Linked DNA regions of Homo sapiens. The protein of the gene in region 1 purifies or fractionates together with the protein of each later gene. This does not show direct contact. Each region holds a gene or a part of one and is shown in the gene's direction. Other genes may lie near its edges. The genes, in order: SESN3, ZFP1 and MYCBP2.

Region 1 (11,024 bases):
CCACATTACCTGTGGCTCCTTTATCCTAAAGCAACAATTAGAATAGGGATTTGAGCAGAATGAGGATAAGAAGCGGAGTTAGCAGCATAAAGGACATAGTAGTCTCTTCTTAGTTAGATAATTGTTCAGCCCATTGTGAGATATATATACATACTATATACAGTGTATATATGTATATATATATAATATATATATTAGGTCATTTTCACACTGCTGATAAAGACATTCCCGAAACTGGGAATAAAAAGGTTTAATTAGACTTACAGTTCCACATGGCTGGGGAGGCCTCAGAATCATGGTGGGAGGCAAAAGGCACTTCTTACATGGTGATGGCAAGAGAAAGATGGGGAAAAAGCAAAAGTGGAAACCCCTGATAAACCCATCAGATCTCATGAGACTTACTCACTATCACGAGAATAGCATGGGGAAAACCAGCCCCCATGATTCAATTACCTCCCCCTGGGTCCCTACCACAACACGTGGGAATTCTGGGAGATAAAATTCAAGTTGAGATTTGGGTGGGGACACAGCCAAACCATATCAATATACATATATTTTTTTTTCAGGGTACCTGACATCATCATACATCATACATCACAATATTGCTTGCATGTGACCCCTTTCCTTTTGTTATAGTAAAGAGGTGACAAATTTATTTTTAATTAGTGTTCTCTGATAAAGTTAACAGTGATAACTAACAGATCAATAATTTAGATGCTGGAGAAGGTTTATGGAGGTTGCAAATTCAAATCCCTACAAAGGGCAAGAAGATAATGTAAATAAAATGGCAAAATTATAACCCCTAGGGAGTGGCAGGGACCTTAGTAAACAGAAGAGTGCATGTCCAAACCAAATAGCCAGTAGTGAGCTTGACAGATGGTTGCCCTGTGGGAATATAAGCCCAGTGTAACCAGATCTGACAATTTTTCTAAAGAAAATGGAAATCTAGATTTTTGGTTTAAAAAAAAAATCCTGAATTGGGAATATTTGAAAGCAATTCAAAAATTTTTTAAAAAGCATCATGCTGGCTGACTTTGTGCAAGCCAAACAAATAAACCACACCCTTCACATCTGTAGGCCTTTTGTAGTCTGCTTTATAGTGGGGTTAAATACAGAAAACTCTGATCTGAAATGTTAGAAGAGCAAGCTGACAGGAATTTGGGTCCTGGTGGAATATTTGTTTTTTGAAAAATGAGCTTCGATAAGAATAATCTTAGTGGAGGTGGGTGATTGAAGAGGTGGAATGGGGTGGGAACTAAAGTAGTGGCCTTTTGAGAACAGATCCTCTTATTTCTCCTTTGGAGTAGTATTGGTCTTGGGCCTTAGAAAAAAATAGCAGGAATCTAATTAACAGCTCTGAGGGAGCAATCAATTTACAATTGTGTGAAGTGTAAATTCCTTTGTGCAAGAAACAAATTACAGTATTTGCAAATGTGTAAATAATGCAGCACTTTCCCAGCAATCCAAATGCTTTGGGTGTCCCCTTGAGAAAGAAAAAGAGGCCTGAAGAGGCAAAATGTTAGAAAGTGACCTATTGTCTCAAGAAATGGAGTTTTAAAAATATCTTTAGTAACTGATTTTTCTCAATTAACTCCTTATTTTGAAACTATAGAGGAACTCAGTTCTTTGGTCAATAGAATGAGAATATTTAAAGAAGTAAACAATTTCAAGTCCAAAGTCACAGCATATTATTAACAGGGTAACTTCAATCAAACATGCTAAACACAAAAATTTTCCTTCAACCCTTCCTACACCTCTGGTTTGTGGTAACAACTTTCATTTGATAAAAGAGAGAATGATGCCCAACCCATAATAGTTAATACATTCAATGTCAGAGAAGGATTGGTGACAGGTAAGAACATGAGCCTAATCTCTCTGCTTCAAAGCAGTGGATTTTTCTGAACAATTCAATTCACATTTATTGGGGTGCTTTTATAAAGAGTGAAACTCATTACTTTCTCCAAAATTTTTTTGAGCACTTCCCTATCAGTTGAGCTAGGAGCCAAGGATACAAAGTAAATGTTACTCTATCCCTGCCTTCAAGGGGTTTGAAGTCTAATGAGAAAACAGGAGTTAAACCTACCATTTCCCTAGTGAGCTTTTTGGTAAAGAAGAGGTATAGAGGGGCACTATGGATGCTTGGACAAGTGCTTGATTCAGGAAGTGTTTCAACAGAAGATATTCACCAGGCAGAAGGAAGAAGGGAAAGGGATTAAGGTAGAGGTAGGTGGAATACTGATGGGCCTTATGCAGAATGATAGCTTTCAAATGATTGCTCTCACCTGTGTTCTTATTCAAATCTTTCCACAAAATATTATAGCAAGTTGCACCATGAGCCTTAAGACATATGTATACCCTTTTACTCAGAAATTCCAGGCCTAGGAATCAGAGATTCTGCCAGAAACTTAAGTATAAGGAAGTTTATTTTGTTATTTACAATCATGAAAAATCTGAAACAACCCACATATTAAACAATAGCATAAGGATTAAGTAAGTTATGGTACATCCAAGCCATGTAATTTTATGGATTCTTTGCTTAAAAAAATTACACTTTAAAAGAATAATTCAAAACAAGCAACATGATTATGAGATAACAGTTTTGAAATGATGTACAATGTTTAATGAAGTATCATCCTAATTTTGTAATAAAAAATTAAAAAGTAGTTCTCAACATTGGTTGTAATTTTCACTCATATCCTACTTTTCTAAAGTTCTTTCTTGTTTTAAACATACCAGACAACAAAAGGGGTGGAGTTTCTCCTTGTTCTATGTGCAATAAAAAGAACTGGCTTTTGTTTCTTTTCCTCTTAAGTGCGATCCTGGGTTTGAAATAAAATTCCCTTTATAATATTCAGGCTGGCCAAGAAAGGAAGGAAGGTCAGGTGAAGAATGGAAGAGAAAGGAGATGTCCAGAAACTGAACATTTCCATGAGAGAGGAGAATAACTATGATGGGAATGAGGGTGTGAGGACAGACCAGAAAGGGTGGTTGCTGTGTTAAGAATAAGGTACTGGCATTGAGTAGTTGAGGGCAGAACATAAACACATACATAATGGTTCACTGTAAGAAATGTCACAATGTAATACATGATTAACTGCCAAATAAATAGCACTACAGACAATACATATTATAATAGTTTGGAGGAATTTGGTGCAGAGAGCCATCATATGGTCAGATACATGTATGTGACCATGTATTATTGAAGATATTCATCTACTAAAATCTTCCTTTAGCGATCTTTGTTAGAGGGTGTTATTGTATAGGACTAGATTCTCTCGGCTTTCCTTTCTGGAGGATTTAGTTACTGAAGAACTTAAAGGAACTCATTTCGAAAGGATTTTAGCTGTCAAGTGAAAAAAGAAAAGAAAAGGTTATAAGAAGAATGTGCTAGAAAACAATATGAATTTAAAATTCTATTTGAGAAAATTCAATCTGCACAAAAATTCACTTCATCCTTCAATTTCTCCTTTCCTTTAAAATGTACTCACATAAAATCTGCTTTAAAAGCCAGAACCAGCCAGGAATATAGCCCAAGAAATTTACCACTAAATGGGGACACATATGTGTTTCTTAGAAAAACTGTGCCTTGCTGACTTTCTCCCTGCATTTCTTGGTTCTCTGCATCGAAGGGCATGTGGTAATTCCCTCCTTTTCTGAATTTACTTGCTTTTACAGTTTCTTCTAACTGAATCTTAAGCACCTTCCCCACACCATTCATTGCTCTTTAGTTATGTATGTCTACACAGCATCAAGCGACCTTTAGCTAACACTGGCTAAATAGATCAACACCTTTACCCAACTACATAACTTAGACCCTTTTGGGGTTTTCTACTCTATTTTGATCTATTTAAACCTGATACTAGCAGATTTCCATTACCTTTGTTTCTTGTGTAGACTTGGTTTATATGTGTTGGTCTCTAAAAAGGGACAGAGAGGAGACAGCTGTTGAGAAATGAGAATGGCAGTTTTAACCGCACAAATTGGTCTAATAGCTTTGATATGCTAAACTTGCTAGCTCCTCCAAGTGTACCTTTCCGATTTTGCATAACACCACCCTGAATCCCTAAGGAAACCAGGGTTGTTGTTTTTTTTTAATTAAAAAGAAAAGAAAGAAATGCAAACCAGTGAAACCGTTCTTTTAAATCATCTCCACATAGATTTCATTCTACGAACTTCAGGCCTTCACAAATCCTGGTACGCTGGAGACCTTTAAAAAGGGAGAAGCCGAGAATACTGATTAGGTTCTAAAAATCGAAAACAGGTGATGTCATAATGCACAGTCCTGTGGCCACGGCCATGGCCGGGTGGGGAGCTGGGCTCCAGTGAGCACAGAGCTCCTTGCCAGTAGGCGATGCAAGTTATCTCTGGGGCCCGGAGGACACGAGTGAGGACCGGGCACCAATCAGGTTCTCGCTCTGCGCCGGCCTTTGTTCTCACTCGGGAGCAGGTTGCGGGCGTCTAGCATCGGGAACCCGCATTCGACTCGGACGCGCATTGCTAGCCCCTTCGGGAGACCTGGCTCCCCTACCCGTCTGTCCCGCCACACTCGGTCAGCCTGCGCTTTCCCCAGTCAAGTCTGCCTTCTCTCCGCAGAACGTGGACGCTAAAACCCTGACTTACCATTTTAAGCTTTAGAAGAGGTAGGTTTGTCCCAATAGTTTTAAACGACAATTTGTTCTCTGAACCTTCCTTTCTGAGCAGGGCGCTGTGCTCTGCATGTATCCGAACAGCTGCCTCAGGAAGGTCTTTTGGGTGAGAAAACAAGCCCCTTTGGCCTTTTAGTGCTGGACAAGTAAATGAACTTACATCTCTAAGATAACTGCTAGAAGGTGCTTCACAAACAAGAGGAAACCGCTAAACCAGAGGTTTTGTGTCTCTCCCCTCAAACTCGATTACTTGCGTAAATATATATATAACTCAGACATTTATCCCCTATCCGCCTCCCAAGCCTCAAGTAACTGAAATCTTTGCAAAACAAGGTTCACAATAAATGATGCGTAAAGTTCTTTGAGATCCCTGGATACAAAGTACTACATAACTGCAGTCTTCTTTACAGCTAAAGTTAGATTTTGGTGGAGAGAAAGCCTAACCACTGCCCTGAAGGAAGGAACATTTAATCCTCCCACTCCCCTCCCCCTTTCTCGAGAGATCAGGAAATATTTAGCTCAATCTTAGACTCTCTAGCGAGCTCTAGCTCCCAACTATTTATCTCATTCTCCTCACCACTTCTGCAGGGACCTAGAGAAGGGGGCGTAGCTTATCTTGGGGGTGGGGCTTGGAGGGCAGTATATTTGCATATGACACACCCTCGTCCTCTTATTGGCAGAGGAGAGCAAACTGTTCCCTGCTACCCTACTACTTAGCTAACCGCCACCTCCCTTCAGTTCCGAGCCTCGGAGATAAACTTAACTTGCCCGGAGATTCAAGGCTTCCTCGGCCCCTGCGATTGGCCGGCGCGACTCCCAGTCGGGCTCTCGTTGCTCATTGGCTGCGGGCTAGCGCCCTGGGGGCGTAGCCGGAGCTGTCCGATTGGCGGGAGGGGCGGTACCGGAGCGTGGAGGTGGTGAAGGTGGTGGGGCGGCGGAGGCGGGGCCGCACTGAGGCGCTGCGGCGGCGGTGGTGGCGGTGGCAGCGGTGGCGGCTGCTCGTCCTAGCCTGGCGGGGGCGGGGGTCTGGAAGATGGGGGCGGGTGGAACAACGGGCCGGTGAGGAGCAGCCGCCGCCGTCTCCGCCGTCGCTGGGGCAGCTGCCGCGGTGGTCGCCTCTGGCAGTGCCGCTAGCTTTCAGGCAGTCGCCTCTCCTCCCGACATCCCGCCTTGAGGAGGCTGAGGCGGAATCGCGGCTGGCGGCGGGGGGACGGACCGGCCCTGCAGTGGCCGCAGTGACAGCCCGGACCCGGCCCTCCGCCCGCTCTCGCCTCGGCGCCCGCAGCCACGATGAACCGGGGCGGCGGCAGCCCGTCGGCCGCCGCCAACTACCTGCTCTGTACCAACTGCCGGAAAGTGCTGCGGAAGGTACGGGTTCGGCCCGGGGTCCTGCCGGCGAGGGTCGCTTCCTGCCGGCCGGGGCTCGGGCGGCTCGTCCCCGGGCGCGCACTGGGGGAGGCTGAGAGGGATCCCCGGGCACCGTCCCTCCGCAGGGACTGAGAAAGGGGGCGTGGGTTGAGGGCAGGAGGGTTTGGACTACTGCGGCTTTTTATTTCCGCCGGGACAGACCCAAGTCTGGAGGGGTTGGGATATTTTTTCTTCCCTTGTTCCTTTTATTTGGTGCCTTTGCTCTCCTTTACGGCTCATTTCCCTACCTTGCTACCCCGGGTCGGCTCCTTGGGCGGAGGGCGGGAGGGATCCGTTCGATCCTCCTCCCTGTGCAGTTTAGCTGTTGATGGAGGTCGGTGTGAAATCAGAGCAGCTGGGTCGGATCCCGAGGAACCTGGCCCCTCTTTGCTGTGGCTAACTCTTGCGAGTGTTGTTTTTGTTTATTCGGTTGCTTCTGCCTTGCGCGCCTTGCTCAACAACCCCCGTTTTCAAATTGTTTGGATGGTAGTCCTGTGTCTGTAGTTCAGTCTCGAAAGGAACCAGTAAAGCATCTTGAACTTTATGCCCATGGGAAATGCAATTCGACCTGGCCAGTTCCTGAGGCTGGGGTTGGGGGAGGAGAAGACTGAGGTGGATGTGGGTTATTCCTCCTTAGCACCCCCCTGCCCCCGTGTTGATCCAGAAAAATGAGGCGCACCATCAGTTTATTGCTGCTTCCTAGAGTGACTGATAGAAAGTTTACTCCAGTATTGTTTAGCTTACTTGGCTTAATCGCCCCGCGGGGAAGGGCGAGAGGGATGGGGAAGGGAATGAAAAAAAGGTCTCTAGACTTTTTGATCAGATTTTAACAGCTGCCCCAAAGTAATATTATAATCAGTTTATTCGTATTCAAACTCTATTTTTACATTTTATTAAGTGGAAACGTTAGGTGAGATGCTTCTGTTTGTTCACTACAAATGAATTAAAATTGCTGAGCTGTGCAAATGCATCGGGACTGAAAGCGGAGATGAATATGGTACCGTTTTTAGTCAACATCTCTAAATACGGTTCACTTTGGGATTGTTCTTTCTACATTTTTTTTTAAAAAAGGAAGAAAGAAAAAAGCACATAAGTAAGCAAGCTCAAATATTTGCGCTCTTTGTCCAAAAACTGTTTTTCTTCCTCTGTGGGTCAGGCCAAGTGCCAATCAAAGTTGTTTTTCAAGCCTCTTTTCCCTGCAGTAGGGCTGCTGCTTTTTTTTTTCTTCCTATTTTATTTGAGAGCGTGAGAGCAAAGGGATTGCAGATTTGAGGTTAATTGAACAGTTAAATATGCCTTAAATTGTGTTTATTGGATATGTTTCTCTTGAAACAGATTTTTATTAAATGTGCATGTTGAGTATGTGCAGTTATTTTTTTCCATAAACTCTAGGATCAAATTACAGTTGATACTTGCTCAGCTCATTGTAGGGTAGCTTGTGAGAAATGTAATGGATCAGAAGTGCAGATCAGCTTAGTTGGATGTTAACTCTTTCACTGCAGGGCCAGATGTCATCTGAACTTAGCTTTCAAAAAAATTTATTTCTTAATTTTTAAATTTATGTTATGTCTTTGACATGAAAAAATGTGTCATTTAAGACATGTTTGATTAAAGTGCAGCCTGGTTAAAATGACAGCAAGTTATGCTTTTTAATTGAATAAGGAAAAAGAGCACTGTATTGACTTTGATAAAAAAATTTTTTAATGGCTCTGGCAATTTGTTAGGCTAATAAAATGTTTGGAGGTAATATTAGGCTTCAAAATGTATTTCATTTTTCTTTTGAGAGAGCTATGGCTATGGATCCATGACACTTTGCTAGCATTTAAGATATTACATCTTTCCTTTAGCTTTTAGGAAACTATTTCTGTTTACCTAGAAAGAACATCCTCATTTCTAGCCATTATTAAAAGAAACGTGGAAAAAGAGTATTCACATTTTCGTATTTTATAATTGCTGAGCACATCTCTGCCAGTATTCCAGTTTTTAGTAACTCCAAGGTATTTAATATTGATTCATGCAGTGGCATGAAATAACTTAATGGAAATAGGATTCTTTGAGCCAGTTATAACATGACTTGGCAACATTTGCAGCTTTTTAAAGAGTGCCACTTTGAAGTGCTCTTAAGAGAATCAGTATGTAGCATTTTAAATGTTTCATCATTCTTAAAATAACAATGAAAAGTTTATTTCTAATAAAGACATGTTTTTCTTGTTGATATAACTCTAAGTTAAAAGTCATCTATAACTCTCAAAATGTGATTCTTAGAGTTTATCTTGTTTTCCATTTAATAAAGTGTTCAGTAATGTAGCCAAGTGAGTCATAGTATTTTGAATGTTTGTTCAGTCTAATTCATAATGGAAGAATGAAACTCATGCTCATCCAGTGTGAATTACTTTTGCTTTTATATTTCTATATAATGATGGAAGAAGGGTCACCTTTATATGGGACAGAAAGTGTTATTCTCTCAGTAGGTGGCTTAATTTGTTGCAGTGTGTTGAATTTTAGGGGAACTTCACAAGGAATGGAATTCACCTTCAAATGAAATAATATGGTTTAACCCAATGCCTGAATATTGAATTATATATTGTATGAGAATTACATTTATTCTTAGAAGTCCGTTTACGGTTTTGATTTAGTATCCTCCAAAATAAAGAGACTTATTAAAATATTGAATGTACCTAATTTGGTAACCTTAGGACAGTAAAAAGAATGGAGAGGTAAACCATATCCATAAATAAATTAACCATCAAAACTATCCTGAAATCCCTAACTCTTAAGTCTAACTTGCTCTATTGTCAATGAGGTAGTTCAGTAAAGTTTTTAATAAAAGAGGAAATGCTTCTATTTATTTTGTAAAGTTAACGAGTTTTTAAGTTTAATCTTTTACTTGAAGAAATTCTAGTGATAACTAGAAGAACATAATCCTTTAATTTGAAAAGTCATGTGTCAAACTGCATTGAGGAAGGTAGGTAATTATCAGTCCACTCATCTTCCAGTAAATAAAAAAGTGGCATATTCCAATGTACTTTGGGTATTGAGCAGTTAGTGCTACTTAAATGAATAGTTTTGTGCTCTTTAGAGGATCTAACATTTAAACTTTTTTAATGTTAAGATAGTTATAGTGATATATCTTTGTATTGTTATTGCACTTTTCACTTTGTTATATGATCATATATTTTGACATCTTTTTGATGGTTTTATAAACAAAGATACTGTCAAAATGAAAAATACTAGATTGAGGACCGGGCATGGTGGCTTACGCCTGTAATCCCAGCACTTTGGGAGGCCAAGGTGGGCAGATCACGAGGTCAAAAGATCGAGACCATCCTGGCCAACATGGTGAAACCCCATATCTACTAAAAATACAAAAATTAGCTGGGCGTGGAATCGTGTGCCTGTAGTCCCAGTTACTCAGGAGGCTGAGGCAGGAGAATCACTTGAACCTGGGAGGCGGAGGTTGTGGTGAGCCAAGGTTGTGGTGAGCCAAGGTCACGCCACTGCACTGCAGCCTGAGCAACAAGAGCAAAACTCTGTCTCAAAAAAAAAGACAAAAAAAAAAAAGAAAAATACTAGATTGAACTATATGAGCCTCATTTTTATAGTCAAAATTGTTAAGTAATAGCAACTTTATATGGTTTAGCCAATAAAATGTATTTGCTCTATCTGTGGACCACTAGTTACATTATGCCTTGGTTAATCAGTTTTCTTGTGTTACATATTTTTGATTGTCAAAGGCAGTTTTTAACTTGATTATCTTAAATATCCTAAGCAGAGATCAAGTAGTTAATTAGTGATGGCAAACCTTTATGCAATGGTTTTCAAACTGCTTCGTATGGACCCTTAAGATTCTTTGGGGTTTTAAAATGCTTGAGTTGCATTAAATTTTTAAGTATGTTTTAACTTATTTTAAAACTGTAATTTAAAAATATGGGTACCCCCAAATATGTACACATAATTTTAATAACTGGAGTCTAACACCATTATCTTTCATTACAAAATTATTCTTGTGCAGGTCTTGAATTACAATTTGTTCTGCTATCTTTGTACAGATATTTGAATTTTTTTTTGTTACTGTGTCATGTATGAGAAAGATTGTCATTGATTGTGAAGGAACTGGCTTTTTAAAAAGAATTCCTTCCATATTTACTTAAGTTAAATGTTTACTTGTGAGAACACAAATTTATTGTTATCAGTAGTTGTAACTTTATTACTAAAATACTTGAAAGTTGCTTGGTATATTTATATGCTTTATAGTTCAGGTTCAATAGAAGATTTAATTTGTAAAAAGTGTTCTGCTGCTTCCCCCAACTCCCCACCCTAAATAAATAGAAAACATAACTACTAATGTAGTGATACTGGAAGCCACAGATGTGGTTGCAGTTAGGTCTTTAACAGATCTTTTGATTTCAAAGCAGAGTTTTCTCTGTAAAATGTTGATAATTTTTACTTGCCTTACAGATTGCTGTATAGTTGGAGAGAGATAGATGTGTGTTAATGAACTTTATAAACCGTGTAAGAAAGAAAAGGACAAGTCCATATATTTTTCCATTTTCCCAGACTATGTTAGTTCTTTCCGTCTTATGGGAATATATTTCAATACATACTGAGTAATTTGGTTAATACTCACTTTTCTGTCCTGTTTAATTATTGCCTGTAAATGAGAGGTAAAGATTATGCTTTTAGTCAGAATGACTTTTTTTTTTTTTTTTACTTATTTTTGATTTCCATATTTCTGTCTGTATTCCCTGCCCCTTTCCCACCCCTGCACTTAAATAGCAAGGCATTGACTTTTGATTCTCGAATAATTAAATTGCCTCCTTGACACTTCAGCAAATAAGGGGAATTGGTATTTAGTTTGAAAAGACTAAGAGTTAAGGAAAATTGTGCTTAATAAAAGGGGGGGTGGTAAATCTAGGGTAAAGCAAAAATTTTTAATTAGTTTAGGAGAAGAGATGGAAGTAAAAGTCTTTT
Region 2 (10,472 bases), on another chromosome or scaffold:
CGGGGTTTCACCGTGTTAGCCAGGATGGTCTCTATCTCCTGACCTGGTGATCCACCTGCCTCGGCCTTGCAAAGTGCTGGGATCACAGGCGTGAGCCATCGCACCCGGCCCAGATCTTTTTATATTATTGATTTATAGTTTAATTCTGATTTGGTCAGAATACTGTGTTACGAATTTCAATTATTTTAAATTTGTTGTGGTTTGTTTTTGTATTGTATTTTTGTTTCATTTTGTTTTAGTAGACTCCTGGTCTCAAGTGATCCGCTGACCTTGGCCTCCCAAAGTGCTTTACAGGCGTGAGCCACTGCACCAGGCCTGTTGTAGTTTGTTTTAAGGTCGAGGATATGATGATCTCTCTGGGTAACTGTTTCGTGTGTATTTGAATAAATATTGTGCTGTTGATCGTAGAATCTTCCTTGATTGATTGATTGATTGAGACAGGGTCTGTCTCTGTTGCCCAAGCTGGAGTGCAGTGGTTCAGTCACAGCTGTCTGCAACCTCAAACCTTTTGCCTCAGCCTCCCGAGTAGCTAGGACTGCAGGTGTGCGCCCTAATCCTTTTGCCTCAGCCTCCGGAGTAGCTAGGACTCAAGGTGTGAGCCACCACACTCAGCTAATTTTCTGTATTTTTTGTAGAGACGAGGTTTTGCCATGTTGCCCAGGCTGGTCTCAAACCCCTGGGCTCAAGCAGTCCACCCACCTTTGCCTCCCAAAGTGCTGGGTTTACAGGCATGAGCTACTGTGCCTGACCCTCTTTTTCCATTCTTTTATCTTTTTTTTTTTTAATTTCCTGACTCCTACAACTGATCATCCTTTTACTTTGAATGTAGCTATGTTTTTATATTTTAAACAAACTGCTTATAGACAGCACATGGTTTGGTCTTACTTTTTTTATATAATTTGACCTCTGTTATTTAATTGGTGTGTTTATGCCAATTATTGATATAGTTGTGTTAAAGTCTACCATCTTGCTGGTTTTTTTCTGTTTTTCTTATTTGGTCTTTGTTTCTGTTTACCTTTTTTTCTGTCTACTTTTGTCTTAAGTGGGTCTTTTTTATAATTACATTTTATCTCCACTGTTGTCTTATTGTATATTTGTAAAAATTTAACAGAGTTTTTGGTTGTTACCCTAAAGTTTAGTGGAACTTTAAAGATATCATACTGTTTTATGTCAATATACTTGGAACATTATACTCCCAATTTCATCCTCCCGTCTTTTGCATTATTGTTGTCATACATGTTGCAGAATATTGACATATGCTGTAAACCCACAAAACTTTGCTACTATTTTTGCTTTAGATAATCTTTCACAGTGATTAAAAGCAAGAAAAAGTATCTATTGTGTTGATCCTCATTTTAACGATTCTCGAGATTTTCATTTATTTGTGTAGATTCAGGTTTTTGTCTGATATCATATTTCTTCTATTTAAATAACTTCATTAAACATTTCTTCTAGTGCAGGTCTACTGATAATGAATTCGCTATGTTTTTGTTGTTTGAAAAAGGTTTTTTACTTCATTATCATTTTTGAAAGATATTTTTGCTGGGTATAGAATTCTGAGTTAATAGTTTTTTGCTTTAGTTGCTTTTTTGTTGTTGTGAAAGCACTTTCAGGATGTCACTACTTTGTTTTCTGGCTTAGTTTCTGATGAGAAGGTGGCTATGATTCATTATCTTGATTTTTCTACATATAATATGTCTTTTTTCCTCTGGCTACTTTGAAGATTTTAACTTTGGTTTTCATTTGTTTGGATACGATGTGTCCATGTGTGTTTTTGTTTGAGTTTAGTTTTTGGTATTTTCCCTGTTTGGATAAATTGAGTTTCTTGGACCTGTGGTTTCATATTATTATTTTTGGAAAATTCTTGTCCATTATGTCTTCAAATACTTCTTTTCTCCTTTTGGAATTTCAGTTACATGTTTATTAGACCATTTGATATTGTCTCACAGCCCTTGGATGCTCTATCCTTTTATGTTTTTCTTCCATTTCTCTTTGAGTTTCAGTTTGACCTATCTTCAAGTTTACTGAAACTTTTCTTAGCTCCTTTGTCTACTAATGAACCTGCTGAAAGATCAACTCTGTTACTGTACTTTTCTTAGCATTTCCATTTGATTTTTTCTTGCAGTTTCCATCTCTGCTGAAATTCCCTATTTGTTTATTCATGTTGTCCACCTTTTCTAGTAAAGCCTTTAGTATATGAATCATAGTTGTGTTAAATGCCCTGTCTGATAATTTCAGCAGTTGAGGGTTCTGTTGATTGTTTTGCCTCTTTTGATAGTGGATTATCTTAGTCTTGCCTTTATGGGTGTCTGATAATGTTAGATTGAAGATAGGTGCTGTTAGTATGATCTTTTCTGCCCCTTCTGAAGAGGCAAAGGGACTTTCCCAGGAGGTGGTATTTTCCCAGGTGGTCTCTAGGGGTTTCTAAACAAGTCATTCTAGGAGTTGTAAGGCAGGTCAGACCTTTAATAACAATGCCTTCCTTTTTCCTCTATTCCAGTTCTGCCTTCATAGTTCTCTGCCTTTGCCCAAAACTGCAGAAAATGAACAAATCCCAGGTGAGTTGTTTGTTTATTCCCCATTTTGCTTTTCAGTGCATTTAAGGAAGTTTATAAGGATCCAGAAAATGAAATAGAAAAGTATGAATAAGACACAAAGGAAACATAGCAAGAATAACTAATCAATACCAGCAGCCAAAAAGCAAATTGAGTTAATTAAATGTCTTGCATTGGTTATGAATACCAATTATTTGGTTCTGTACATTAGGTCTGAATAAATTTTATGGACCTTCATATAGATGGTGTTTTGGACAGCACCCCCAGAAACAACCAACTTTGAAAGGGTTATCACTTTATCTGTGGTTGTTTCATATAACATTCCTCAGTGCAAGTGCAGAAGATTATTGTATGTATTTGGTTTTTCCAGTCAGATTAGCCTAATGCCAGAGAATGCAGTAAATATGTGGGTTTGTATTTAAATCCCTCCACCCCAAGCAGGTACCACTGTCATTACTTTCTTGTGTAGCTTTCCAGAGCTTATTTGTACATAATTACACAAGTACAAATAAAAGCACAAACGTAAGATAGCATGTTAATCATACTGTTCTGTTTATATGCGTTCTGTTTTAATAGATTTCATTTTTTTTAGAGCAGTTTTGGGTTTACAGAAAAATTGAATGGGGAATGCAGTGTGTTCCCATATACCCCCTCATTCCCAACCCCTACCCCCAGTTTCCTTTATTATTAATATATGCATTAATGTATATTGTTACAGTTGATGAGCCAATATTGATACTTTAAAGACCATAGTTTACAGTAGGGATCACTCTCTGTGTACATTCTGTGTATTTTGACCAATATATAATGACATGTATCCATCACTATGGCATCATACAGAATAGGTTCACTGCCCTGAAAATCCCGTGCTCCGCCTATGCACCTCTCCCTCTGTCTCCCTAAGTCCCTAACACCCACTGATCTTTCTACTGTCTCATCTCCCTAGTCGTGTCTTTTCTAGAATGTCATATAGTTGGATTCATGCAGTAGGTAGCCTTTTTAGATTGGTTTCCTTCACTTAGAAATATGCATTTAAGGTTTCTCCAAGTTCAAGACAATGCTGGCCAACACGGTGAAACCCCGTCTCTAGTAAAAAAAAAAGTACAAAAAATTAGCCAGGCGTGGTGGCGGGCGCCTGTAGTCCCAGCTACTCGGGAGGCTGAGGCAGGAGAATGGCGTGAAGCCAGGAGGCGGAGCTTGCAGTGAGCTGAGATCGCGCCACTGAACTCCAGCCTGGGCAACAGAGCGAGACTTTGTCTCAAAAAAAAAAAAAGAGAAGGTTCCTCCAAGTCTTTTCTTGGCTTGATAACTCATTTCTTCTTAGTACTGAATATGTCATGATGTGATGTACCACGGTTTATTTATCCATTCACATATTGAAGGAACAGATAAACTTAGTGGCTTCTAAGTTTTGGCAATTATAAATAAAGCTGTTATAAACATCTGTGTGCAGGTTTTTTGGGGGCATGTTTTCAACTCATTTGGATAAATACCAAGGCCCCTGGATCATACACTAAGAATATAATTAATTTTGTAAGAAACTGCCAAACTCCCTTCAATGTGGCTGTACCATTTTACATTCCCACATTCTCACCAGCAATGAATGAGAGTTTTTTTTTTTTTTTTTTTTTGGTTTTAAGGAGCGGAAAGTTTAATAGGCAAGAAAGAAAAGAGAAGGCAGAAGGAAGAGGCTCCCCTGACAGAGACAGAGGGAGGGGGGCTCCAAAGCCGAGAGAGGGAACCTCCTGAATGAGAGTTTCTACGGCCCTGCATCCTCACCAGCATTTTGTGTTGTCAGTGTTCTGGATTTTAGCCATTTTATTTATTTATGTTTTTAATTTTTATTTTTTTTGAGATGGAGTCTTGCTCTGTCACACAGGCTGGAATGTAGTGGCGTGATCTTGGCTCAGTGCAACCTCCCCTTCCCAGGTTCAAGTGATTCTCCTGCCTCAGCCTCCCGAGTAGCTGGGATTACAGGTGCGCACCACCATAGCCCAGCTAATTTTTGTATTTTTAGTAGAGATGGGGTTTCACCATGTTGGTCAGGCTGGTCTCGAACTCCTGGGCTCAAGTGATCCACCCACCTTGGCCTCCCAAAATGCTGATTACAAGCGTAAGTCACTGTGCCTGGTTATGGTTTGTGTTTCAATCTCTTAATTATGTGATTTGATTTTGTTTTGTTTTTGAGACAGGGTCTCGCTCTGTCACCTAAGTGGGAGTGCAGTGATGTGAACACGGTTTACTGCAGCCTCGACTTGCTGGACTCAAGCAGTCCTCCTGCCTAAATCCCCGCAAGTAGCTGGGACTACAGGCACATGCCGCCATGCTTACCTAATTTTTTGTATTTTTTTGTAGAGATGGAGTTTTGCCCTGTCGCTCAGGCTCATCTTGAACTCCTGAGCTCAAGCAATCCATGTCCACCTCAGTCTCCTAAAGTGCTGGCATTACAGGTGTGAGCCACCGTGCTCAGCCCAATTATGTGTTTTTTAAATCATTCAGTAACATATCTTTGAAGTATTTCCATATCAGAGCATAGAGGTTGCTCATTCTTTTTTTTCCTAATCTTTAATTGTGTGACACATGTACAGAATAGTGTATTAAGACATAACACTCTTTAAATGTGTTATAACAACATATATAACAAATATATATGCATTAAAGAATAATAATAAAATGGGTGCCCATGTAGGCACCCAAGTTAAGAAATAGAACATTATCTGTTCTTTATGACAAATTTTCTGATTGAATCCACCTAGTAGATAGCCACTATCTTGACATTTTTCTTAATAGTTCCCTTGCTTTCCTTAAAGACTTTACCACTTAGATATATTCTTAATGTAATATTCAGTTGATAAACTATAACTGGGATTAATATCACTTATAGTCTTAATATAAAATTTAGTTAACAAACTATAACTGGAATTAATATTGCCTTGGTTTGCATAATCTTTTGTCTAATTGGTGGAGGTTTTTTTTTCCTTTCAGACATGTGAGATCTAAAAGATGCATCCGTGGGCCCTTTGCCAAGACTTAGGTTATCATTTATTTTTTAAATTACACTAGCTAGTGTTAGCTAAGAAGAAATGAAACCACTCATGTATTGCTGGAGATAGTATAGAATGATACAGCCTTACTGGGAGCAATGTGGCAACACCAAGCAAATTTAGCAGTGTAAAGCAGCTGTGTCTAGAAATTTGGCTACTGTTGGGGCCAGGTGTGGTGGGTCACGCCGGTAATCCTAGCACTTTGGGAGGCCGAGGTTGGTGGATCACTTGAGGTCAGGAGATCGAGACCAGCCTGGCCAACATGGCGAAACCCTGTCTTTACTAAAAATACAAAAAAAATTAGCCGGGCGTGGTAGCATGCGCCTGTAATCCCAGCTACTTCGGAGGCTAAGGCAGGAGAATCGCTTGAACCCAGGAGGTGGAGGCTGCAGTGAGCCGAGATCATGCTACTGCACTCCAGCCTGGGCAACAGAGTAAGACTCTGTCTCAGAAAAAGAAAAGAAAAGAAAAGAAATTTTGCTACTGTTGGACAAAGCCTCCCAGGAAAAGATGAGCTGAATTGAATTTCCAGGTATAGCCTGGCTTTGACTTTCCTGAGAGTTTACAGAAGTCCCGTTTGGGGAGGTTATTGGCAAGGTCATGAGAAGCATGGGGCTCAACATAGTTGGGCCGTGTGACAGGGTCAGAGTGTAGACTAGGTATTGAATTTTTGGTACGAATATAATTAGAGGGAGTGGGATGCTATGCATTTTCTGCATCTTGGTTCACTGGTGAATAGCCACCACTCAGGAGTAGATTAAAGCAGAACACTTCTGTGACATGAAATGACTGTTCTCATCTGATCCAAGGCAGTCTGGTATGGAGGGGAAAGACAGATGTCATCAGAACATGTTCAAGATAAGCCAAACCAAGTACAGTTAAGAATCTGGGCCAGGCTCACCCAGGCATTCTGCCCTCAGGTTAATAAAAAGTTGGTACAGTGGCCGCAGGTATCTTGTTGATGACAACCCTCAGAATGCCAGCTTTTGAATCACTGTGTTCCAGTCCGTAACTACAAGTAATGTGGTGTTAGTAGAGAATCAGTGCTATTTCACCATCTCCCACCGCTGTCTCCTTCCCACTCCTAGGGATTTCCTTCCTCTCTCTCATGTTGATCTTTTGTTTGCAGCGTCTCTTTTTTGGATTACTGTTGTTTTATTGAAGTACATGCTTCAGCAGCTTCTTGAGAAAGGGTTTGTGAGAGGTATGTTTTTTAGGCTGAATTTCTGAAAATGTCTTTTTTTTTTTTTTTTTTTTGAGACAGTCTCACTCTGTCTCCCAGGCTGGGGTGCAGTGGTGTGATCTTGGCTCACTGCAATCTCTACCACAGGGTTCAAGCAATTCTCCCGCCTCAGCCTCCTAAGTAGCTGTGATTACAGGTGTGTGCCACTACACACGGTGAATTTTTGTATTTTTAGTAGAGACGGGATTTCACCCTGTTGGCCAGGCTGGTCTTGAACTCCTGGCCTCAAGTGATACGCCCTCCTCAGCCTCCCAAAATGCTAGGATTACAGGTGAGAGCCACTGCACCTGGCCTTCATTCTGTTCTGGTATTTGATTGATAGCTAGGTATGAATGTGGATTTGTCCATTCCTCAGTTTAGTTCTGTCAGGCTTGATATAATTTGAAGCTGTGTTAGTCATTGCATATATGGTTATGGATGTGTGCACACATATGATTCTGTCTTCCTGATGGACTTATCCTTTTATCATTTTGAAATGCCCCTCTTTATCCCTGATAATACTGCTTTTCTGATAAAAATAAAGCCATACCTACCTCTTCTGGGTTGGTTGGTTGGTTTGTTTTGAGACCGGATCTGGCTCTGTTACCCAGGCTGGAGTGCAGTGGCTTGATCTTCACTCACTGCAGTCTTTGCCTCCTGAGTTCAAGTGATCCTCCCAGTATTTGGAACTACAGGCGTGTACCACCATGCTCAGGCAATTTTTGTAGTTTTGTTTTTGGTAGAGATGGGATCTCGCCAGGTTGCCCAGGCTGGTCTCAAACCCCTAGGCTTACGAGATCTGTCTACCTCAGCCTCCCAAAGTTCTGGGATTACAAATGTGAACCACCATGCCTGGCCCATACCTCCTTTTTTTTATGATTAGTGTTATGGTATATATTTTATTTTTGCTTCAACCTATTTATGTTCATATGTTTATAGTATATTTCCCCTAAATAGCTTGTAGTTTGGTCGTGGTTTTGATCCAGCCTGTTTCTTTTTTCTTTTTTTGAGACAGGGTCTTCCTCTGTTGCCCAGGGTGGAATTTAGTGGCATGAACACAGCTCACTGCAGCCTCAAGTTCCTTGATCCAGCCTATTTCTGTCTATTTTTTTTTTTTTTTAATTTTTTTTATTTTTTGAGACAGGATCTCTCTTTCTCACCCAGGCTGCAGTGCTGGAGTGAAGTGGTGTGATCTTGGCTCATTGCAGCCTCAAGCAGTTCTCCCACGTCAGCCTCCTGAGTAGCTGGGACTACAGGCCTGTGACAGTTAATTTTAATTTTAATTTTTTTTATTTTTTTTGTCGTGATGAGATCTTGCCTCCCAAAGGGCTGGGATTATAGGCGTGAGCCACCATGCCTGGCCTATTTCTGTCTTTTAATTGGTTTATTATTTTATTTGTGATTTTTTTTTTTTTTTTACAGGCATAGGTGAATTTCAGTGTGTCATTTTGCTATTTATTTTTAGTTGTCCTGTGTGTTCCTATTTTCCCTTTTATCTTTTTTTTAAGTGGTTGCTGTAGAGATTACAGCTTATAATCTTAACTGACCACCTCTTTAATATTTTGCATATTACTTTACAGTTCGTCTGAAGTGTTTATGGGTTAAAACTAATATATAGGTACTGTCTACATCTGCTCCTTTTGGGTTGTTTATCTCTTGATTGTTTTTGTCTTGTCTTTTTTTTTTTTTTTTTGAGACAGAGTCTTGCCCAGACTAGAGTGCAGTGGCTTGATCTCCATTCACTGCAACCTCTGCCTCCCAGGCTCAAGTGATCCTCCCACTTCAGCCTCCTTAATAGCTGGGACTACAGGCACATGTCATTATGCCCAGCTAATTTTTGTATTTTTTGTAGACATGGAATTTCGTTGTGTTGTCCAGGCTGGTCTCGAACTCCTGGGCTCAAGCAATCCACCCACCTTAGCCGCCCAATGTGCTGGGATTTCAGGTATGCGCCACATGCCTGGCCTCGTTGTTTTGGCTTGCTTGATTTCTCCTTCATTCCTTCCTTCCTTCCCTTCCCTTCCCTTCCTTTCCCTTCCTTCCCTCACTTCCCTTCCTTCCCTCCCTTCCCTCCCTTCCCTCCTTTCCCTCCTTTCCCTCCCTCCCTCCCTCCCTCCCTCCCTTCTTTCCTTTCCCTCCCTCCCTCCCTTCCTTCCTTTCTCTCTCTCTCTCACTTTTCATTTTTTTTTTTTTTTTTTTGACAGAGTCTTGGTTACCCCCAGACTGGGGTACAGTGACAACGCTCACAGTTCACTGTAGCTGTGACCTCCTGGGCTCAGGCAACCCTCCCACCCCAGCCTCTTGTGAAGCTGGGTCCACAGACATGTGCCACTATGCCCGGCTAATTTTTGTACTTTTTTTAGACAGGGTTTTGGTATATTGCCCAAGCTGGTCTCAAACTCTTGGGCTCAATTTGTCCACCTGCCTCAGCCTCCCAAAGTGCTGGGATTACAGTCATGAGCCACTATACCTGGCCCTGGTTTTGCTTTTTCACATGTCTAGCAGTTTTGTTTGTATGCTGGATATGTTGTATGATACATAGCTCCTTCTAAAAAATGTTAAGTTTTGTCTGCCAGATAGCTAAATTATTGGCAGATGATTCTGATCCCATTGGGGCATGTTTTAAGATTTGCAGGTGTGGGTGTATCGGTTTGGTCATACTCCTTTCTCCTAGGGTGTGCTCCATCCTTCTAGGGCATGGCTTTTGTGGCATCTCAACTGTTTGCCAGTATCTCTATCTTTCTGGATTCAGACTGTCCCAGCTCCTCAGCACTATGCAACCTCTGAAATCTCTAGTCAGCTCTCAGTCTCACAGTCGATGCCACTAGTTGTCTTGGAGGCTTGCCCTCCACCTACACATATTAGGAACTAGCCAAAGATTTGAGGTGAATCTTTATGCAGAATGTTAAGGCTTCTCTATGGCTTCTGTAGCGCCATCATCCTATGTCTTACTCCATTTTGTGCTGCCATGGCAGAATACTTGAGACTAGGTAATTTATAAAGAACAGAAGTTTATTTTCTTGGCTGGGCAAGGTAGCCATGCCTGTAATCTCAGCACTTTGAAGGGCCAAGGTGGGTGGATCCCTTGAGGGCAGGAGTTTGAGACCAGTCTTGCCAACATGTACTAAACCCATCTGTACTAAACCCCATCTGTACTAATCCCATCTGTACTAAACCCCATCTGTACTAAACCCCATCTATACTAAAAATACAAAATTTAGCCAAGTGTGGTGGCTAACCCCATCTGTACTAAACCCCATCTGTACTAAAAATACAAAAATTAGCCAAGTGTGGTGGCACTTGTCTGTAACCCCAGCTACTTAGGTGGCTGAGGCACAAGAATCACTTGAACCTGGAAGGTGGAGGCTGTAGTGAGCTGAGATCATGCCACTGCACTCCAATCTGGGTGACAAAGCGAGACTGCCTCAAAAAAAAAAAAAAAAAAAGGAAGAAATTTATTTTCTCACAGTTCTAGAAGCTGAGAGTCCAAGATCAAGGTGCTGGTGAAGGCCTGGTCTCTTCTTCCAGGATGGCACTTGAAATGCTGCATCCTTCAGAGGGGAGGAGTGCTGTGTCCTGGCATGGCAGAAAGCAAAAGGGCAAAAAAGGAGATGAACTCCTTTCATCAAGCCCCGTTAGAAGGGCTCCTAA
Region 3 (10,898 bases), on another chromosome or scaffold:
GCAACTTATGGGCAGGGGTTTAGCTTTGAGCAGCCAGCAGTCAACACTCTCAACAGCTGGGGAATAAGAGCCTCATACCTGAAGGGGTATCTGGGAGGCACACTATAGTAATCTTTAATAAAATCCAAAGGCATCATATAAAATACAGTTCAGTGAACTTTCTGATGTTTTGACTTGATTAAAGGAAGAAAATTTAGGACCCAGGGGAATGAATGGGTTTTTATGCTTTTAAGTATTTTCCATAAATACATATTTCATTCGGACAGATTACTGATAGATTCTAGATAGGGAATGTGTCCTGAGAAGATGCTAGAGTTGGTATATCAGGTAGAATGCTTTGGCTGCAAGCAACAGAATACTTCATCAACAGTAGCTGAGACAATTAGGAATTTGATTTTTACCTTGTATAAAAATAAGTTTGAAACTTTGTTCAATGGTTCTATGATGTCAGGGTCAATATTTATGATGCTCTTGGCCTTATCTCATGCCTCTTGTCTCATGGCTATGAACATCAGCCATTCTGTCCATCTTTTAGGTAGAAAGAAAGGGAGAGAGAGAGAAGTAGTACTAGCAGATTTTCCCTCACTGTGCTGTCCTGAATTGTGTCACGATGCCAACTCTAGGTGCAGGACAGACTCACAGAGAAAATATTTCACTTTTTCCGGCATCCAGAATGGAGGCAGGCAAGGAAGAAGGGGATTTAGAATGGGTGTGAGTGAGCCAACTAATATTTTCAAAGCAGATTTCTGTTTTGCTGCTTGATGTCAGATCCGCAAGCTTTCAAGACCAGATGAAAGATGATAAAATGCCATCCTTTGGCTGAGAAACCAAATCAGGTTTATTATTTGGATGGAAGACCATCTGTACCATTCAGGGTCCAATCAGGAAAACAGATAAATGCATGCCAGGTCATTAAGAGAGAGAATTGAATATGGGGAACTAATTGCAATGCTACTCTAGGAATAGAAAAGCCAAACAAGGGACAGAGATATCTACAATCCCTAGGGCTGGAGACACCAAGGAGAAAACGCTGCTACCAGGGTCCACAAGCTGGGGCTGCTCAGTGAGAACTGGCTTTACGAGAGGTTACCTAATTGCAGCTGGACCATGGAAGGAGAAGCTGTTCAGCAGGAGCTGGAACCACAGAGGAGATGTTGCCTAAAGTTGGCGGGGGTGGGGTGCCGGGAGAGAGAGAGAGAGAAATTGATTCTCCTGCTGCCTACTTGCCAGTCACCCATTTTGCCCCCAGGCTGAAGCTAATTTGAAACTAGCTGGCAAGGGAAGCCTGACAAATGGAATTTGCAGGGATCCTTCCCCTGCTGTACAGAGCAGAGCAGGAGAATGGACAGGAATGGACTCAAGAGCAAATAAGCAGATTCCTGGCACACCACCCCACCAACACTGAGGTAGACTTTAGAAGTACCTGCAGGGATGCCACAGTTTTTCTCTGCAAGCAGTGTTGTCTTTGCTGCACCACAAAAATTAGTAATTAATTCAGTTCACAACAATTTGGCATCAAATAGGTAAGATTATTTTGTCTATCCAAGAAAATTCTGTCACCACAAGTTAATTTAGGAAGACTGTGAAATATTTTTTATGACTTTTATGTTCTAAAAACTTTTAAAATAGCTTCCGGTCTAGTTTGAAGGCAAACCTGATATGATATCAAAAAAGAGGCAAAATATTCTTAAGAAAAATTTTTTATGAAGAACTGGTAAATTGGCTCCTTTTTACTTTCTAAATATAAATGTAGAAATATTCATCAAAATAGGAAGCCAAACTAGGCAAGGTCAAGATTTTGATGTTAAATTCAGATTAACCTACAGAAAATGTAAATTATAGATGATTTATAGTTTTTGAATCTGGAGAGATACCATAGCTACTAGCCTTTTGAGAAGAAACTATAGTCTGTTTTGGCTGTTACATGTCGAAATGTATCCATCAGTAAAAATTCAAAACACTTATTGAATTTATGAAGGTAGGCAATGTGTTTTGTGAGTTAACAAATTATACAAGAATGGGTATTTTAGGGAAACAACTATTGTCTTTGGATTCTATTCTTCCTGTCATGTCAAGACACAGTAAATCTTTATTTGTGGACAGGACTCTTTGTTAAGAAAACAACAAGAAAACCAACTTTCAAATCCTAATCTATATAACTCAAATTGTATAACTGTTTTGTTACTTCTAGCACAAGATTAGGACATCCCTCAAATAAGGGATCATTAATATATTAACATAATATTGACAATAATAGCTATGGCCTGCTATGTAGTATGTTAAGCAAGTAAGTCATACAGATTATTTAATTTAACCCTCAAATAATCTAATGAAGTAGGTGCTATTATTATTCACTTTACTGATGAGAAGATGTAGCATGAAAGAGGTAAAAGTCTTTGAAAAAAAAGACCATGACTAATATAGTCATTTTAGAGCCATTTAGTTATATCAGGTTATCTGGATTTGGCAATAACCCTATTAAATATATTTAAAAGAAACATTAATATGACATAGTTGCTATTCTACATGAGAATTTCAATTATCCTCTTACTATTTAATTTTAGTAATAAAGATCAATCTAATATCACGCCAGTTAAAAATGGCTTATGGCCAGGCGCGGTGGCTCACGCCTCTAATCCTAGCACTTTGGGAGGCCAAGAGGGGGCGGATCACCTGAGGTCAGAAGTTTGAGACCAGCCTGGCCAACATGGTGAAACCCCGTCTCTACTAAAAATACAAAAATTAGCCAGGTGCGGCAGTGCGTGCCTGTAATCCCAGCTACTTGGCAGGCTGAGGCACAAGAATCGCTTGAACCCGGGAGGCGGAGGTTGCAGTGAGCTGAGATCATGCCACTGCAGTCCAGCCTGGGTGACAGAGTGAGACTGTCTCAAAAAACAAACAAACAACAACAAAGAAAATGGTTTCTATCCAAAAGACAGGCAATAACAAATGTTGGCGAGGATGTGGAGAAAAGGGAACACTTGAACACTGTTGGTGGGAATGTAAATAAGTACAACCACTATTAAGAACAGTTTGGAGGTTCCTCAAAAAACTTAAAATTGAGCTACCATATGACCCAGCAATCCCACTGCTGGGTATATACCCAAAGGAAAGAAAATCAGTATATAGAAGAGATGTCTGCGCTCCTGTTTGTTGCAGCACTGTTTACAATGGCCAAGATTTGGAAGCAAACTTATTGATGTAAGTGTCCATCACCCTATAAAGGGATAAAGAAAACGTGGTACACACATACACAATGGAGTACTATTCAACCATAAAAAGAATGAGATCCAGTCATTTACAATAGCATGGACTGAACTACAGATCATTATGTTAAGTGAAATAAGCCAGACACAGAAAGACAAACATCACATGTTCTCACTCGCTTGTGGGATCTAAAAATCAAAACAATTGAACTTATGGACATAGAGAGTAGGATGGTTACCAGAAGCTGGGAAGAGTCATGAGGAGTTTGGGGAGGGGAGATGGGGATGGTTAATGGGTACAAAAAAAAAAAATCAGAAAGAATGAATAAGACCTACTATTTGATAGCATAATAGGGTGACTATAGTCAATAATAACTTAATTGTGTATTTTAAAATAACTGAAAGAATGTAACTGGATTGTTTGTAACTCAAAAGATAAATGCTTGAGGGGATGGATACCTTATTCTCCATCATGTGCTTATTTCACATTGCATGCCTGTATCAAAATATCTCATGCATCCTATAAATATATACACCTTCTATGTACCCACAAAAAAATTTTAAAGTAATAACAAAATTTAAAAAAGATTAATCTAATAACTTATAAACTATACTAAAGTTTTCAAGGTTGAAATGCTATAGTTTTAAACTTTCTGTTTTTAGGACAATTATACTTTATATAACTTTCTACATCAGTTGTGAAAACATCCTCTAGGCTAAATGCATCACAACAATGAGATTTTGAAAGAATGTGATTTGCATTCAGATATATAGTATTGAATTCACATACTTAAAAAACATATACTAATATATTTTAGGATAATTTTTCACGGATGAAAATGTCAATATATGTCAATATATAACTTAGGATCCCTGGAACCTAAATTTTTGGATGTGGGAAAACTTGGACATATAATTTACATCTTTTAAAACTACCATGAATAAAAAAGAAAAACATTAACTCATCATGCTTACAAGTTACTGAATATCCCAAGGCCCTAAAAATATAGTTGTTTAAAGCATGAGGTTAAGATAGCCAGGGGATGCAATATGTAATTTATGTTTAAAATAATTTCGATAGCCATGTTGAATTTTTCCCTTCAGCTTGGAGTACTAAATATATTCTATGAAATATACTTTATTTTAAAGTGCAATATATTTGTCAAGAATGCACTATCTTATTACCCTTAAAAAGAGAAGGTCACTGAAGAGTAAAGCATGTCTTCACTCTTCAAGCCTAAGCTTTTTCTTTTTTTTTTCCCAAATTGTTCTCAGCTACCAATTTTGTTTTTAAATTCCCCAATACATTGTTGTACAAATCCAGGAAACAAACGCAGACTTTACCACAGCATTTTCAGCAGTCTCGATGTACCTAATAATATACATACTTCCTGTGTTTGTAGTCTTGTAGCTTTAGTACAATATTAACCCTTTAAATGAAACAACACTAATCTGTCCTCTTATATACACGTTATGGTTCCTGCCCTGTTATTTACTACATCAGCACGGGTAGCTTCCTTTAAAAACAAAATCGTTAAAGATGAGAGTAGGAAAAATGTAAATGTGATAAGAGTTCAAAAAACTGTGGTCCAGGTTTGCAATGTTAAGTGGAAAAGAACGACTAAATCTGTGATCACAAGGGGAAAGATGAAGCCATAGTCTTATTACATGGGCACAGGACAGAGAGATCTCTTTTGCGAAATGAGCATACCAACCACAAAGAATAAAACATACTACGCCCGTAATAAAATGGGCACAGGCAGGATTTGCCGTAGTTCAATGCTATTCTTTGAGGGCGAATGTGTCGTGGGTGAACTGCTGTCTAGCCCATTCCGACACCCAAGCCGCCCAGGCGGCCCCCACGCCCCCCGGCTGCAGCCCTCCCTGTACACACAAATGCACACACGCCCAGCCCGGCCGCTGGAGGAACTAAGATGGCAGCGCAGAAAGCACGGGGGCCGAGCTCGGTGGGGTGGGGAAAGAAAAGCAAAGCCCTCTGTGTTTTTTCATTCTGTATAGGTCCCCCTCTTTCCCCAAACACAAGGGCTGCGTAAGGCATTCGGTAGTAGAGCTCGCAGGAGCGGCGGGAGGGGACGCTTGCTTTGCATACTGCCAGAAACCCACGTCTCCGATCTGCAGCGACGGTTCAGGCGACCCTCGCGACTTGTGACCACACTCTCCTTCACGTCCCCTTGACAGTAGAAGTAAGGGTGACTCCAAATGCCTTTTTCTTTCTGGCATGCGCCCCACTCCCCCGCCATCCCAGGGGAGCCTTCCAAGTTGCCCAGCTGCCAAGGCGGTAGCTGTGGCAGTTGCAGGGACCGGGGAGCGCGCCGTGCGGAGGCAGGAAGAGGAGGAGGAGGAGAAAAAACGCTGCACTGGCTATCAATTTTGAGGAGAGCGACCGCTGCCGCTGCCGTGGAAGGAAACGCTGCCAACCGCAACAGAAATGCCACTCTCGGATACCTAAGTGAGCATGTGTGCGACTCTGCGCACGCCTAGTTGCGCAGCTCAATGACATCGGGCTTCTTAGCAAGTTATCCAGTTTCCGGGTTTTGAGTGTACCCATCAGGCTCCGTAGGGGCCTGTCTGGGACTGAACAGCAGTAAAGATTGAAGCGAAATTAATGAATGGTGGGAAGAGCCCGGAGACCAGGGCAGCCACGCGGGTCAATGTCCACTAGAAACTCTAAATGGGCAGTGACTGCACATTCCACCACCTGAGCCTGCGCTGTAAATGTTTTCTGTGCAAGCAACATTCATTCATTCAGCCAACATCTATTTCCCTCCTGTTCAGGGCTAGACCCTGTGCTAGGAGCCTGTGATGGTTGAACAGACACCATTGCTACCCTACGGAAAACCTAGTGTTTTGTTTAGTATGTGCTACCATTTGTGAAAATTCATGTGCCAAGTTGGACATCCTAGATCCTTTAAGTCCTCCCTCAATCTCATGTAGTGGGTATTCTTTTGAGCATTATTCAGAGGAGATAATTTGCCCAAAGCCAGACAAGTATTAAGTAGCAGAGTCAGGATCCAATTCCAGGGCTGTCTGATTTCAGAGCCTTTTAGCTACCCTGCTAGGTCTTGCAATAGTAATGGGCCCTCTCATTGCTTACCTGTCAGGCCTTAGAATTCTTAGAATTTAGCTGCCTCTACACCATTGTCTTGGTTCTCACTCCAGGGTTAGGGGCTGCCTGGTCAACACTGAGGTCTTTAACTGTGCTGAAGCATTAGGATAGAAATTTAGTCTAATAAATACTTACTGGATACCTACTACATGCAAAGTCCTGAAGTGGCTGAAGGAGACACAAAAGCAGCAAGCTCTGAAGGAACTTAGGTAAGGAAACAAGACAAATACAAAAACTTAACAGGGCTAATTACAGTACTAAAATACTATGATTCCACATGTCTTGTCCTTTGTTCCTATGTTTATCCCACTGCTAATTATCTTTAAAAAAACTAAATGAAATCCATCCATTATTTAAAGCTTCAGAAAAAAATGCATTGCTTTCAGCAACCTTCCACCCTAAAACTAGAATTAATTTACTTTCCTATTCCTTGTTGTTTGCACTTCTCAAACACTAAGGAGGATTTTTTAACATTTATTTTATTTTTTTTTAAGAGAAGGCCATCCGAAGAAGAGGCACAGATATAAGAACTAGTACATAGATGAAAGATACAGTACTGGGATGACAGAACTTATAAATTATTTTGTCAGGACTGTAAATTAGGAAACTCTTCAAATTGAGAGTCAAAGGATAAAACGTAGTAGGAATCAAAGTGCATTGGCACGTATATTTCTAGAGCATATACTTAGATGGGGTTCGTAGGTTAGCTTGGAACAAAGGACTGAGCAAATGTTACTTTTTTATAGACAACAACAAGATATGTGATGGATCTGACATTTTCAGACGCTATACAGTCTCCGTCACAATTATTGTTTCAGATCGCATTCAAGAATTATCTTTAAAAATGTAAGTTTGGGCAGAAAAAAATAAACCATTAAATGACCACTGCCAAGAGATAAAAGTGCACTCTTAGGTGAGTGAGGAGTCAATAAAAAAGAGTAATTTAAAAAATATTATTGCTCCGTTGAGAACAAGAATTTGGGAATGACTCTGGCTTGTGAATACTAGCCTATCTGTTATACTTTCACACACAAAATACTTTCACACACAAAAAAGAATGTGCTAGATTACTACCTGTCTTTGTAAGTAAAAGCTGTGTTAAACAAGCGTAAATCCTAATGACAAAAACCATATAAAATAAGATCGCTAAAGGCACTTCTAATTGGGATGGTTTTCTCTGCCTTAAACTCTGAATTAACCAGCACAATTCACAGTAAATCTTCCTGTTGGCAGCAGAGCCTTGGAGAAGAGGTAGCAGAAGAGCGTGCCACTCCTCCTCTGGCGATGGGCACGTTCCCCCTTGCTTTCTGGTCCTCGTTCTTCCACCTGGAGGGAACCTGAAGTCGAACGTCAGTAGCTGACAGCCTCCCCAGCACTTTCCTTACTCTTCTTCAAGCTGCCAGTAAAACCCGGAGAAGTGGACTACTTCAGATTCCGCACAACCCAACAGCCCCAAACCCAAAGCCCCGAGGCGGAGGGAGTGGTGGCGGAGAGGGGGTGGGGAGGAAAAGGGGCGGCAGTTACTGAGCATGTGCGAGGAGTGGCGCATGCTCTGTGAGGCCGGCAGCTTCCCATTGCGGGTAGCCCCGGCGGTGGTGGCGGTGGTAGCGGTGGTGGCGGCGGCAGTGGCGGCACCGCCTCCTCCTCACATTCCCGGGGTGGCGGGGTTAGATGAGCGGCCCCAGTAGCGGCGAGGGCGGCGCGGGGGGGAGGAGGAGAAGAAGGAGGAGGAGAAGGAGGTCGCTGTCTTTGTAGTCTCCCTGCTGCGGGAGCCAGAGGCCGCCGCCGGAGCCGTCGTCGTTGGAAAAGGGCTGTGTGTGCGCGCGCGTGTCTGCCCGCCCGGCCCGCGGGGACGAGGCGGCGGCGGCGGCGGCGGCGGCGAGGATGATGATGTGCGCAGCGACTGCCTCCCCCGCCGCCGCCTCCTCGGGGCTCGGCGGGGACGGATTCTACCCAGCCGCCACCTTCTCTTCCTCCCCGGCGCCGGGGGCGCTGTTCATGCCGGTTCCCGACGGCTCCGTGGCTGCTGCGGGGCTGGGGCTGGGGCTACCCGCCGCGGACTCCCGGGGTCACTACCAGCTGCTGCTGTCAGGCCGGGCCCTGGCCGACCGCTACCGGAGGATTTATACCGCTGCGCTCAATGACAGGGACCAGGGGGGCGGCAGCGCTGGACACCCAGCCTCCAGGTGCGTCCCCAGGGTGCCCTTCCTTGCGCCCCATGCCGCCCTTCCTTGCGCCCCATGCCGCGCGTGCACCCGCGTGTGTGTGTGCTTGCGTGTGTGTACCTGCGCATTTATTGAGCTTTCAGTCCGCTCTGGATGTCTGTTGGCAGGAGCACTTATCGAGATAGGAGGGTGCGGTGGCTGCAGTTTCTCGTGTGTGTGTGTGTGTGTGTGTGTGTGTGTGTGTGTGTGTGTGTCTGCCTGCCTATGTGGGGGGATAGTGAGGGGTGGTAGGGGAACCTGTGATGCTGGAAAAGGCGATGGTGCTGGTCGGCTGTGACACGTGTGTGTATCGTTGAGGTAGGAGGTGGCATGGGTAGAGAGGGTAAGAGGATGATACACGAAGAGAATTGCAACAGTGGCAAGGGAAGTGGCGTTTTCAGTGTCTCTGCCGCAATGTTATTTGCACGTGCCGCCTCTCCCATGACATTCCTTCCAGCCCTTTCCACCTCCCTTCAATCTGCCTTTCACCAAGAGGAGTCATGGTATAGATTGGTTGAGTTTTGGATAAGCAGGCCCGAGGGATAGGCGTGAGGTTTGCTTTAAAAAGATTTATGAATAAGGGACGCAGATGGAGATCTGTGTGGATGCGAAAGGTGTCTGATAGAGATTTTTAGAGCTGTACTTTGATAACCGGGCCTTTTGGTCTTCTAGAAATGAGGTTGCAGTTACTCTTGTGATCTGATGTCCCATCGGCCATTTCTCTTCATCCTCTGTTCGATTTCCTCTGTTACTTACAGGCTTTAGAGTAGAGAGGGTTTTGTAGGGAAAAGGGGAAAACTGCAGAACTTCAGAATATGACAGCTGGTACAGCGTTCAACTGCCACTAGCTAGAAAATCTGAATAGCGCGTAGATTTGTCTCTTTTACTTGGGTTGGCTACACCTTCAGCTTCCTTGATGTAGATGTTCAGTTGGTTTCATTTTCTTTTTCTTAAAATGTGGGTGCTTTTTTTTGCTGAGGGCTCTCCTATTGTTTTCTTTTCCATGCCCTTACATGCCGCATACCCTGAAGGTTGGTGACTGACTTGTTTCACCAGCTTTGACAGTGGTAATTGGGAGTTGGCTTCATCTTTTTTTTCCCACAGCTTCTTGCAGTACATGGGGAAAACATAGTAGGAAACTGTCAAAATGAGTTAAAGAGTTTACTGTTATTTATTGAATGTGCAATTTATTAGGCAATTGTTAGGTGTCTTTTTCTCCCATTATGAAAGGGACGAGGCTGTAAGTCAGGTATTTGTAGCTTATCACTAGGTATCATGGCTTATCTGTTGGAGACAGTTGTAAAGCTGGAGCTTTGTTCACACTTTTTCTAGGTTAACCAGTTTTCTCATGTCTGTGATTGTTTACAGGATTGGGCACAGCAGTAGTTTTACCATATGGATGTAAACGTGTGTAACTATTTTTTGCTATCTGAACTGAAGGCCAGAATGGCACAAGTCTGTTTCTTGCTAATGCTTTTGAAAATAGCACAAAACTACGTGAGACAGTTTGCCCTGATAATTAGGTATAATTTTGATCTGTAAATCTCTAAATTATGGCACCGCAGGAACATCTTTACAAACTCCTCTCAAAGAATTTAAATTTATTTTGTGTATGGTTTCCAGACTTATGCAATAATTTTTGACTTGTATATTCCTGTTTTGACTTCCTACTACTAGTGTAATATGATTTCTGTGTATCTAGAACTATATTAACGGTTTTAGACAAAATTAACATAGATTAATCATATAACATTTGTGAATGATTTTTTAGCCCTTGGTCCATTTTTGTACAAGCCGTCAATGAAAAGTAATGAAGAATTAGTTCAAGTATTTCAAGAACTACTCATGGAAATCAGCATTATGTTATGATATTGCCTGCTAATGCTTGTTCAACGCAACATTATTGTTTATTTAAGTTCACATTATTTTATTACAAAAAGTAGCCTGCAACTACTCTATTGATGATTTGATTAAGAATTAAATCACATTTCTTATTAAAGATGTTGAGGAAAGTAGACTTGGGGTTTCGGCTCTGAATGAATGATAGAATTATTTGTATAGGGACACAAGTTAAAGGAGAAGATGATATCTTTTAGAGAGACTGAATGGAGCAATAATAGAGAATGAAGCTCTAGTGAGCATCAGGTTTAAAGGTGTGAGAGAAAGGAGACAGTGAAGGAAACGGAATCAAAATTAAGAAGAAAATCATGAAACAGTAGCCTCTGTGGCTCTAGGAGAGTGGATTGAAAATTCTCAGAAGTGGTAAATGTTGAAGAAAGTGAGAACCGTTTTCAGGTCATTGATAACTTTTGAGGAAGTGGTCAGAATAGAGGGATGTGGTGAGGAGTGAATGGAATGTGT

What was found.
Region 2: the proteins of SESN3 (region 1) and ZFP1 purify together in Homo sapiens (affinity purification with mass spectrometry; 3 studies listed by BioGRID and IntAct, with this or other methods). This does not show direct contact.
Region 3: the proteins of SESN3 (region 1) and MYCBP2 purify together in Homo sapiens (affinity purification with mass spectrometry; 3 studies listed by BioGRID and IntAct, with this or other methods). This does not show direct contact.

Annotation. Positions count from the first base shown.
Region 1 is NC_000011.10:95,225,773-95,236,796, reverse strand, and holds the start of SESN3 (sestrin-3), read left to right. Parts: upstream 1-5,594; 5' UTR 5,595-5,936; coding exon 5,937-6,014; intron 6,015-6,301; exon of another isoform or gene 6,302-6,611; intron 6,612-11,024.
Region 2 is NC_000016.10:75,150,409-75,160,880, forward strand, and holds part of ZFP1 (zinc finger protein 1 homolog), read left to right. Parts: intron 1-2,500; coding exon of another isoform or gene 2,501-2,543; coding exon 2,544-2,558; intron 2,559-6,728; exon of another isoform or gene 6,729-6,803; intron 6,804-8,744; exon of another isoform or gene 8,745-8,766; intron 8,767-10,472. UniProt on the Homo sapiens protein: May be involved in transcriptional regulation.
Region 3 is NC_000013.11:77,324,095-77,334,992, reverse strand, and holds the start of MYCBP2 (E3 ubiquitin-protein ligase MYCBP2), read left to right. Parts: upstream 1-7,898; 5' UTR 7,899-8,004; coding exon of another isoform or gene 8,005-8,088; 5' UTR 8,089-8,217; coding exon 8,218-8,519; intron 8,520-10,898. Other genes in the region: uncharacterized LOC127898562, read left to right, coding at 8,005-8,088. UniProt on the Homo sapiens protein: Atypical E3 ubiquitin-protein ligase which specifically mediates ubiquitination of threonine and serine residues on target proteins, instead of ubiquitinating lysine residues.